2 separate regions of the Homo sapiens genome follow, and region 2 is linked to region 1. Evidence: fine-mapped expression QTL. A gene starts in region 1. The other region holds a variant in brackets. All regions are shown on one strand. Distances are from middle to middle. Region 1 holds the start of TARBP2 (TARBP2 subunit of RISC loading complex). Region 2 overlaps ATP5MC2 (ATP synthase membrane subunit c locus 2).

The links.
Region 2: its variant is fine-mapped to the expression of TARBP2 in prostate (GTEx, PIP 0.94).

Annotation. Positions count from the first base shown.
Region 1 is chr12:53,498,794-53,504,161 of GRCh38, forward strand. It overlaps TARBP2 (TARBP2 subunit of RISC loading complex), which reads left to right and starts at 2,490. Exons shown (of 9, transcript NM_134323.2): 1 at 2,490-2,668; 2 at 3,222-3,391; 3 at 4,234-4,336; 4 at 4,920-5,015. The coding sequence starts at 2,616. MAP3K12 (mitogen-activated protein kinase kinase kinase 12) reads right to left here and starts at 665. Exons shown (of 14, transcript NM_001193511.2): 1 at 634-665. RefSeq lists a silencer at 782-1,031 and an enhancer at 2,125-2,424.
Region 2 is chr12:53,661,466-53,666,810 of GRCh38, forward strand. It overlaps ATP5MC2 (ATP synthase membrane subunit c locus 2), which reads right to left. Exons shown (of 5, transcript NM_005176.7): 5 at 3,705-3,963. The coding sequence ends at 3,849. Among named protein-coding and RNA genes, the nearest start is that of ATP5MC2, 12 kb to the right of the region's middle. The variant C/G (reference allele first, on the strand shown) is at 3,413.

The DNA of each region.
Region 1 (5,368 bases):
AGGTGAATGCCACAGCTGGAGGGGATTAGGAGGATCACAGCTTGAAGGGGAGGGGGACCAACGCCTGGGCATGCAGGAACAGGTGCTCTCTGACTAATCTTCAGGTCCAGCCTGCTGTGTGTGTGTGTGTGTGTGTGTGTGTGTGTGTGTGTGTGTGTGTGTGTGTGTGTGTGTGTGTGTGTGTGTGTGTGTGTGTGTGTGTGTGTGTGTGGAGATGGTGGGTATATCAGTCCTTGCCCTTCCTTTCCTTCCCTAGAGGGGGCCAAAACTCTCCCTCCTCCTTCCCTCTCTCTCTTCCTGAGGATGAGTGGGAGGAGATGTTCTCTTGCCCTCTGTCCTTTAAGTCTGTCCCCCAATCATCCTCCACCCCACCCCAATACGGTCCTTTCCAGCTCTGGAGGCCCTTCGTCTCCAAGCTGGGCCGCGGCATCCCTCCGCTCCATTCCCTTCCTTCCCAGCCCCACAGGCGTCGGGTCCAGGTCCCCAGTTCCTCCATCCCCACAGCCTCAGCATCCCCACGCCATCACCCCGCACCAGGCCACATCTGCATCCCGACCCTCCCTCCACGCCCGGATCCCAGGACCCAGACCCATCCCTGCCCCCCACCCCCCCACAACTCGGCCAGGCTCTCACCTCGGGGGCTCCGCGGCCGCAGCACAAAAGGCGGCGCTGCTGCAGCTCCGCTCCGGATGCTGCTCCCGCCTCCTCCTCCTTCTCCTCCTCCTTCCCTCCTCCCCCCGCTGCCCTCCACCGGACCCGGGGCGCTGTCACAGGCGATGCTCGTGCGGTGTCCGGATGCACGGGTGTCAGCTTCAGCTTTCTGCCCCCACCCCCCGACCCCTAGCCCCGTCCCTGCTCGGCTTGAACTCCCGCTCCTTCCAGGGCCCCCGCCCCTGGCCCCCCGGGACGGACACGCCCTGAGCGGGGGATGCTGCGATGGAGCCGCCGGCCTCTTAAAGGAGCCCGCTGCTGCCATCCGGCGCGCTCCAGGCTCGTACCTGGCCCGCCTGGGCCCCGCGCCTCCCTGCTGGCGGTGTCCTATGGAGGTCCCACCTCAGGCCTCAGGCTGATTCCACAGGAACCCCCTATGACCCGTCTTATAGACTCCTTTCTACATCGGAGAGAGCAGCCCCTCAGTTGGGATCCCTAGCGCTCTGGCATTGCTCCCCCTATCATACCGATCTTGCCAGCTCTCCTTCCCTTGATTGTCACCACTCACTCCAATTTCACCCACTTGGAATTCACTCGGCTCTAGGCCCCATCCTCCTCCAGTGTTCCTGGATGACCCCTCATTATCATTTCAAGATTCCTCTGGACCTCCAACCCCGGCTCAGAGTAAGACATCTTTCTTGACCCCTTCTCAGAACACTCATTAGAACCTTTTTTTTTTTTAATGTGGTCTCTCCCTTTCTCTCTCCAAGGTCACAAGATTTCCCTCAGCCCAGTGGTTGTGCAACTTTGGGGGAGGAGGCAATGGGGCTCTAGGACTAAACAATGCGCGTCTGCTCAACACCCAGATCAGTTGATTAATCTTAGGCGGCCAAAATTCACTTTTGCTCTCTTCAGCTGAGAGACCCAAGACTCATGGAAGAGGGAACAAGACCACCAAGGTGCCTAGTCCTTCTAATCCTGTCGTCCCACATTACAGCCTGATTATCAGGCCCCAGAGGTTTCCTCGCCAGTTAAAGAGAGGTTCACTAGAGCGGTTCTAAAAAGGTTTCACAAAAGAAGCAACACCTGAAGGGAGGTGAAGGACGACCTAGGAAAAGGAAGCAAGTTCTGTGTCACGGAGGCCCAAGGGCAAGGGGCTTAGGCTGTGGGTTGAGGGGACTGTCTGAGACGGACTTAAACCTGCACCAGCTCCAGAGCCCTGCGGAAACAGAGATCGGTCCCCTCCGGCGTCTAGGTAAGGCCCACCCTCCCAGACCGCAAAGAGCCAGGATCCGACGGCAGCCTCTCCGGACCAATCACAACCTTCCTTCATCAAGGAGGCGGGGTCGGGGGGGGCTGACTTTTCCTTGTCTCCGCCCCTTTAGTCGAAGTAACCAATCTCAGTGCACCTAGGGGAAGTAATCGCAATGGGAGTAACCAATGACGCCATGAAGCTTCTCGTGCGTGCTTGACCCTGCCTCTCCAGCTGCGACACAGATGGCGCGCGGGCTCTTGGGTTCTGTAGTTTTCTCGCGATCCAAAAGGCTCCGTGCCCAAGTGAGTCCTTACCGCCTCCCTACCCAGCGGCTTCCCCTCCGCTAGTACGCATGTCCACAGCTTCACGGACCGGGAGAGAGGGGGCGCGGAAGGAAGGAGGCGGGACGGTATTACAAACAAAAAAATACGGCCTTCTCGAGAAGCGACGGCGGAGGGCCCGCTCCTCCCAGAAGGCGGTGCAGCCTGCCCGGGCGAGCCACGCACGCAGAGGGTTGTGGGGCGGATAGCTCCCCTCCAGATGGAGGCTCACGAAGTAGGGTGGGCGGGGGACTCCATATCCCAGCGTGCCCCGCGGCGGGCCCTACCGGCCGCGACTCCGGGCTTGGCCCCGGCCCTAGCTCGTCGGCTGTGTATTGGGGCGCGTGGAGGCTGCAGTCACGGTGGCGCCCGCGGGGACGGAGGAGGGAATGAGTGAAGAGGAGCAAGGCTCCGGCACTACCACGGGCTGCGGGCTGCCTAGGTGAGCCGTCTCGTACCGATTCCTTCAGGGCGAAAAGCGTGGGGCCGTGCGGAGGGAGTAGCGGCGCGGCCCCAGCATGCACCTGGCCTGAGGGTTGTTCCCGGCAAGCACTGGGGCAGTGGGCAGTGGTTCCCGGCGTGCACCGGGGCAGTGGCTGCTGCCTCCAGCTCTAAATAGTTTGGGGTTGGCCCGGTTCCCAGACTGCACTGGAACACTGGGCTTTATGCCCCCACATTCAGTGCATTTGGTGGGTACTGGGTTCCTGGCTTGCACTGTGTCAGGGGGTATGCACTTTCAACCTGCATTGGGGCACAGGATCGTGCCCACCTTAACTGAGGCAGGAGCAATGCATTCTTCCCCCCTTGCTTTGGGGTAGTGGGCCCTACTTTTCCAGCCTGCACCTCCACTTGGAACCCAGCCAATGGATGCTAGACTGTCTGGGGTTCCTTGGACCCTATGTCCCCCATAATGTGCCTAGGTCTGGTATGGAAGTGCTTGGCTAGGTGGGTGCAGAGAGGGGAGGTGTGATGTGGGTCTGTGCCCCTTCCCCCAGTATAGAGCAAATGCTGGCCGCCAACCCAGGCAAGACCCCGATCAGCCTTCTGCAGGAGTATGGGACCAGAATAGGGAAGACGCCTGTGTACGACCTTCTCAAAGCCGAGGGCCAAGCCCACCAGCCTAATTTCACCTTCCGGGTCACCGTTGGCGACACCAGCTGCACTGGTGAGGAAGGCTTGGGCAGCCTGGCTGGGGTGTGCATTTGCAGGTCCCCATGGCTTTGTTTCTTGGAGTCTCTCTCTTCACAGTCCTTTTCTCCAAGGCCAGTGAGGGAAGGAGAGATTTCAGGGGAAAAGCTACTGACTGGATTGGGAGAACAGGGCTGTAAGAAGGTGGGTAGGACGTGGGAGAGTTAGAGGAGCGAGCAGGACTCCCACAGTGATCTGGCAGATCCCCATCACCCTAGAGGAAAAGTAAGAGAAGATAACTGAAATCCCAGTGGAGTATTTGGGGGAGTGAGTGCCTGGCGTGCTGGGCTCTGTTCCCGGTGCTTAACCAAATTCCCGTTTAATTTTAAACCTCAGTCTAACCAATGATTGTAGGTGGTAGTATCCGCCCCCCCGACTCCTCCCCCCGCCCGCCCATGTTGAATATGAGGAAACTGAGTGTTTGAGATAGTAAATGGCTGGTGCATGGTCACATGCCTAGTATGTGGCAGAGTGGGGCTTTTACTCCAGAGCCTACCCTCTCTTATTCCAGCTCTCTGTATTTATTGAGGGAAAAGAAAGTGCTTTGCAAAGGAAATTAAAGCATTTGCGCTCAGAAGTCCACCCAAGGCGTTTGAGCTCAGAAGTCCTGCTTGGCATGGCTTAATTCTGGAAGCTAACGGAAAGATAAGGGCTCTTCCTTCCAGCAATTAGTGAAACACTTCCAGTCTTCAGCAGGGGGAGGTTGGTCAGAAGGGGCTTGATTGATTCCCTCTGGCTACGAGGAGAGAGGCTGTGGGATGCTGGTTTCTTTCCCGTCCTTTCAGTGACCTCCAGTATTGCCCATGCCCCCTCTCTCAGGTCAGGGCCCCAGCAAGAAGGCAGCCAAGCACAAGGCAGCTGAGGTGGCCCTCAAACACCTCAAAGGGGGGAGCATGCTGGAGCCGGCCCTGGAGGACAGCAGGTGAGGGAGGAACCGAGGCATCCCAGAAGCCCTTCAAGGAACCCAGGCCCTGCACCACCCACTCTGCCCCGAGGCCTGGCCAGGTGACACTTAGCCACCCTGACCTGGCCTCTTCCTGAGAGTCCCTCTGGACCTGAACAGGGTTTTCCAGGGCTTCTGCTGCTATGAAGAATTCTTGGGGTGGAGGGGTTGGTTAGCCCCATAGAGGGGTTGTGGCAGTAGGTTGGGGCCTGGGTTAGGGAGGGAGAGGGGTAGAGGCTTGAGGCTAAAGGGAGTTACTCCCCAACATACCTCCTTGTTCTAGCAAGATGTCCTTCCTTCACGCGCAGGTTGGAGTTTGTTGCTCCTCTGGTTCTTGGGTACAAAGATACCCTCTTCTCTGAGACTCTCTTTTCTCAGTCTTTTCGCCGGTGTTTGGCAGCAAAGGATCCGAGGAGGAAGCTGTTGGTTGAGCCTCCCTGATTCTTTGGCTCAATTTGGAAGTTCTCTTAGGGGATTGGGAGGTCAGGAGGACGTGGGTCCCCCACCCCTCTCTTCCCCCTATACATGGGTGTGAATCAAAGGCCCCCTTCCCCTCGGGAAGTTCTTTTTCTCCCCTAGACTCTTCACTGCCTGAGGACATTCCGGTTTTTACTGCTGCAGCAGCTGCTACCCCAGTTCCATCTGTAGTCCTAACCAGGTATCTGTGTCCCCTGACTGCCTGAGGTGGGTGGAGGAAGGGGTTCTGGTTTTTGGTCCCTCAGTCCTTGGACCCAAGCTGGTCAGGCATGAGGAAGTCTGAGAATAAACAGAATGGAATAGTTGGGAACCAGAACTTGAAGAAATCACAGCAGCTGGTAAGCTCTTGGGACAAGAGGTCATTTGTGATTTTCAGACAGCCTTATGAATGATGTCCGACCATGTTTAAGGGTCTTGCAGGCCCCATTTTCTTCTGGGTTGACCACATGTCAGTTCTGTGTTTGAGGCCCATCAGGCACTTCTGGGACTGGAAATACAGCTCTTCTCCCACTGTCCTGGCTTAGATGATACCCA
Region 2 (5,345 bases), 160 kb after region 1:
ACCTCTGCCTCCTGGGTTCAAGTGATTCTCCTGCCTCAGCCTCCTGAGTAGCTGGGATTACAGGTGTGCGTCACCATGCCCAGCTAATTTTTGTATTTTTAGTAGAGACGGGGTTTCACCATGTTGGTCAGGCTGCTCTTGAACTCCTGACCTCGTGATCCACCTGCCTTGGCCTCCCAAAGTGCTGGGATTACAGGTATGAGCTACCACGCCCGGCCTCATTCATTTTTTTTTTAAAAACAGACAAGGTCTTGTGATGTTGCCCAGGCTGGTCTTGAAATCTTGTGCTCGAGAGAACCTTCCGCCTCAGCCTCCCAAGTAGCTGAGATTATAGGTATGTGTCACCCTGTCAGGTCCAAATCATGATTCTTGAATCTGAGTCTTAGTTTTCTCATCTGTTAAAACACCAACAAAACAAAACACCAAAAACCAAAAAACCACACACCTATTTCACATAAACAAAACAGATATACTAAGAGTATGGCATACGTTTAAAAAAAAAAGTTTTTTTTTTTTTGAGACAGAGTTTTGCTCTGTCGCCCAGGCTGGAGTGCAGTGGCATGGTCTTGGCTCACTGCAACCTCTGCCTCCTGGGTTCAAGCGATTCTCCCACCTCAGCCTCCTAAGTAGCTGGGATTACAGGTGCATACCGCCACACCAAGCTCATTTTTGTACTTTTAGTAGAGACAGGGTTTTGCCATGTTAGCCAGGCTGCTCTCAAACTCTTGATGTCAAGTGATCCGCCCAACTTGGCCTCCCAAAGTGCTAGGATTACAGGCGTGACCCACTGCGTCCGGCCAGGGTAGGACATTCTTAAGGGGTCACTTAAAAAATTCTGCCCACCTTAGCACTTCAAAAGATGAGAGAAAATTTCTCTTTGGTGGTTGGGGGAAGCAGCAGGAATAAATTATCTCTAACTAACCATTTACACTAATAAGAGAAGCCAAGCACTTGGGATGAAGAGGACTAACCTCATGCCTGGTATTCTATCCCTGTCTTCTGCCATTTCTAAAGTGGCTACTTTGATTACAATATGCTAATATTCACAGTGCCTTGAGATAAATGCTTAAAAATATATATTTTTTGAGACAGAGTCTTGCTCTGTTGCCCAGGATGGAGTGCAGTGGTGCGATCTCGGCCCACTGCAACCTCTGCCTCTGGGGTTCAAATGATTGTCCTGCCTCAGCCTCCCGAGTAGCTGGGACTACAGGCGTGCGCCACCATGCCTGGTTAATTTTTGCATTTTCAGTAGAGATGGGGTTTCACCATGTTGGCCAGGATGTCTCCATCTCCTGACCTCATGATCCGCCCGCCTCAGCCTCCCAAAGTGCTGAGATTACAGGCATGAGCCACCACGTCCAGCCAAAAATAAATTTTAAGGATGCCTGGGGACAAAAAGATCTTCCTGTGTTTTACTTTTTCCTCATCAAATGGTGAGAACGCCACGATATCCAGGAATGTCTCCTAAGAATACATGTTGGAAAATGCATGCTATTTTGAGATACGGCCCAATAAAGACAAAGTTTTGGCTGGGCACAGTGGCTCACGCCTGTAATCCCAGCACCTTGGGAGGCTGAGGCGGGCAGATCACCTGAGGCCAGGAGTTCAAGACTAGCCAGGCCAACATGGTGAAACCCTCTCTCTAAACATACAAAAAATTAGCTGAGCGTGGTGGCACGTGCCTGTAATCCCAGCTACTCGGGAGGCTGAGGCAGGAGGATCACTTCAACCCAGGAGGTGCAGGTTGCAGTGAGCCAAGATTGTGCCACTCCACTCCAGCCTGGGTAACAGAATGTAACTCTGTCTCAAAACAACAAAAACAACAAAAAAAGACAAAGTTTCACTGCTTAGAACTTGAGGGACCAGGACAGCATTCTCTACTCACTACTGCGATACTACTACCCTTTTTTTTTCTATTCCTGAATTATACATGAATATTCCTTCATCTCATCTGTGTGGAGACACAGAGCTGCCCCAGGTTCCTGGACACCAACTCAAGCCAAATTACCATTGTTCCTGGTCAGCTTTCTCATCCTGATGCCCTTGGAAGGCCTCAAACTATTAAATCCATCTTGAAAGGGAGGCTGGAGCATGGTTCCTCATTACCGTTGTTCAGCATTGAGGTGATTTTCAAAGGGCACCATTTGCTTCTAATTTTAGGATGGCACAAACCTACTGACGCTCCTCCTGTGGTGCTGAAGAAACACAACTGACTCTTGTAAGAAACTGAGAAGAGGGAAGCAGGTCTTGCTGCCTTCAGCATCCTTGGGTTTTCTCTCTAGATGCCTTCTGGCCACTTTTTTTTTGAGATGGAGTTTCTCTCTTGTTGCCCAGGCTGGAGTCCAGTGGCACAATCTCAGCTCACCACAACCTCCACCTCCCGGGTTCAAGCAATTCTCCTGCTTCAGCCTCCCAAGTAGCTGGGATTACAGGCACGTGCCACCACACCTGGCTACTTTTGTATTTTTAGCAGAGATGGGGTTTCTCCATGTTGGTCAGGCTGGTCTCGAACCCCCGACCTCAGGTGATCTGCCTGCCTCAGGCTCCCAAAATGCTGGGATTACAGGTTGAGTCACCGCCCCTGGCCCAGACTTTTAAAAATTTTGATTCCAGGCCAGGCATGGTAGCTCACGCCTGCAATCCCAGCACTTTGGGAGGCTGAGGCGGGTGCATCACTTGAGGCTGGGTTCGAGACCGGCCTGGCCAACATGGCAAAACCTCGTCTTTACTAAAAATACAAAAAGTAACTAGCTGGGCATGGTGGTGCTCGCCTGTAATCCCAGCTACTTAGGAGGCTACAGCAGGAGAATCGCTTGAACCTGGGAGGCAGAGGTTGCGGTGATCTGAGATTGCACCACAGCAGAGTGAGCCTATCTCAAAAATAAATAAATAAATAAATAAATAAATAAATAAATAATCCAATGAAGGATTTGGAAAAAAATTTTTGAGACAGTCTTGCTCTGTTGCCCAGGCTGGAGTGCAGTGGTGCGATCTCTTTTGGCTCTTTAATGCTCTTTTGGCTGAGGGTGGATGGGAACCAGAAAATAGCTTCATGGAGGTTAAATTTAAGTCTTCAGGGATAACAGAGTTCGAAAAAGAGGAAAGTGAGCAAAGATGCAGGGAAAGAAAGCAGAAATGAGCAGAGAAAGGAAAAGGCAGGAAGATATGGTAAAGACAGGAAAACATCTGAAAAATGACAGTCACTTTATGTAGTGTATAGGACTAAACAGATAAAGCAGAGAAAGTTGAGGTGACTTTTTGAACCATTAACTGATAAAACCAGTCTTATGCTTAAGGAGGATTCACCTGGCAGTGGTAAGGAGAAGTAAATGCTGGAGGGAAGAGACTGGAGGCAGAAGGCCAGTTAAGAGGTTCTTGCAATAGACGAGGTGGATGACAATAAGGGCCTGAG[C/G]CAGGAGAGTGACAGTGGAAACAGAAAGCCTATTAGCCAACATTTTAAGCCAGAACTTGAAGTTGCTACTGACCCCAATCTTCCCAGGCAAGTAGCAGGCCATGCCAGGTGAAAATAATTTAAAATGTTATGCTATTTCAAATAAAGCTTTCCTGAAACAGAATTAAGAAAAAGTGAGCTCAGCCAAATCCATGTTGAGTTTAGCACCATCACTACCCTTCGGGCCTTGTACTCTCACGAAGGCACTCAGCCAACTGTGGAAAAGAAATATACACAGGAGACTCAAGAAACATCTTATTAATACAGTATTTATTTGTCTTTTCTCTGTCAAACCCTGAGCCAACCACGTTCCCCAGGCTGCCTGGGGAGGTATAGGAAAAGGAACACACGGGGCCAACCAGACGCGGGAGAACTATGGGAGGTGGAGACGGCTCCTTCACATGGCAAAGAGGATGAGAAAGGCTACCATCAGACAAAAGAGCCCCATGGCCTCCGAGAGGGCAAAGCCCAGAATGGCGTAGGAGAAGAGCTGTTGCTTCAGAGAAGGGTTCCTGGTAGAAGGAGAAGAGAAAAGACTGAATTTCTAGTTCACACAAAGAAAAGGATAAATATCTAAGATGGGCTCAGGGAGAATCCCCCTCTTCAAGATTATCTCACATAATAAAGAAGCTTTTAGGGTAACACCATCATGCCCAAATTCTTGCCCTGATTCCCCAAAGGCTCTACAGGAACTGAATGAAGGGGGAGCAGGCAATCTAAAATCCTGTAACATGGCCCAGGTATAATCATGACCTTCACTAATGGTTCACCCATCTCATTACCACAAATTAAGACCTCTTGGCCCAGACACTTAATATCCAGGGCCCAAATAGGATGGAAGGGTCTATCTAGAGCAGTGTTTTCAAACTTTAAGCAGAACTCCAATATAGTAAACATCTAAAAGCCAAACTGCAATGGTACAAAAGTAGTGGGGAAATTTTAACGGCTTGGTCTCCCCTTTATTCTCTAAGACAGTCTCTGGGGCATAACCTCAGAATCCTAAGGATTTATGGAACACCGCTCTTCTAGAAGACAAGAGTAAGAGGGACAGATTATGTTCTCTCATTTCAAATAGTCAGAAGATCTGGGGCTTTAAGAAACTACAAATGGGCTGGGTGCGGTGGCTCACACCTGTAATCCCAGCACTTTGGGAGGCCAAAGCAGGCGGATCACTTGAAGCCAGAAGTTGGAGACCAGCCTGGCCAACATGGTGAAACCCCGTCTCTACTAAAAATACAAAAATTAGGCCAGGCGCGGTGGCTCACGCCTGTAATCCCAGCACTTTGGGAGGCCGAGATGAGTAGATTGCTTGAGGTCAGGAGTTCGAGACCAGCCTGGCCAACCTGGTGAAACCCTGTCTCTACCAAAAATACAAAAATTGCTGGGCGCAGTGGCTCATGTCTGTAATCCCAGCACTTTGGGAGGCCGAAGTGGGCAGATCACGAGGTCAGGAAATCGAGACCATCCTAGCTAATACGGTGACACCCTGTCTCTACTAAAAATACAAAAAATTAGCCAGGCGTGTTGGCAGGCGCTTGTAGTCCCAGCTACTCAGGAGGCTGAGGCAGGAGAACGGCGTGAACCCGGGAGGCAGAGGATGCAGTGATCCAAGACCGCAGCCACTGTACTCCAGCCTGGGCGACAGAGCAAGACTCTGTCTCAAAAAAAAAAAAGAAAGAAAAAAAATACAAAAATTAGCTGGGGGTAGCGGTGCGTACCTGTAATCCCAGCTACTTGGGAGGCTGAGGCAAGAGAATTGCTTGAACCCGAGAGGCAGAGGTTGCAGTGAGCTGAGATTACACAGTTGCACTCCAGCCTGGGTGACAGAGTCAGACTCTGTCTCAAAAAAATAAAATAAAATAAAATAAAAAAATAAAAAATTAGCCGGGCGTGG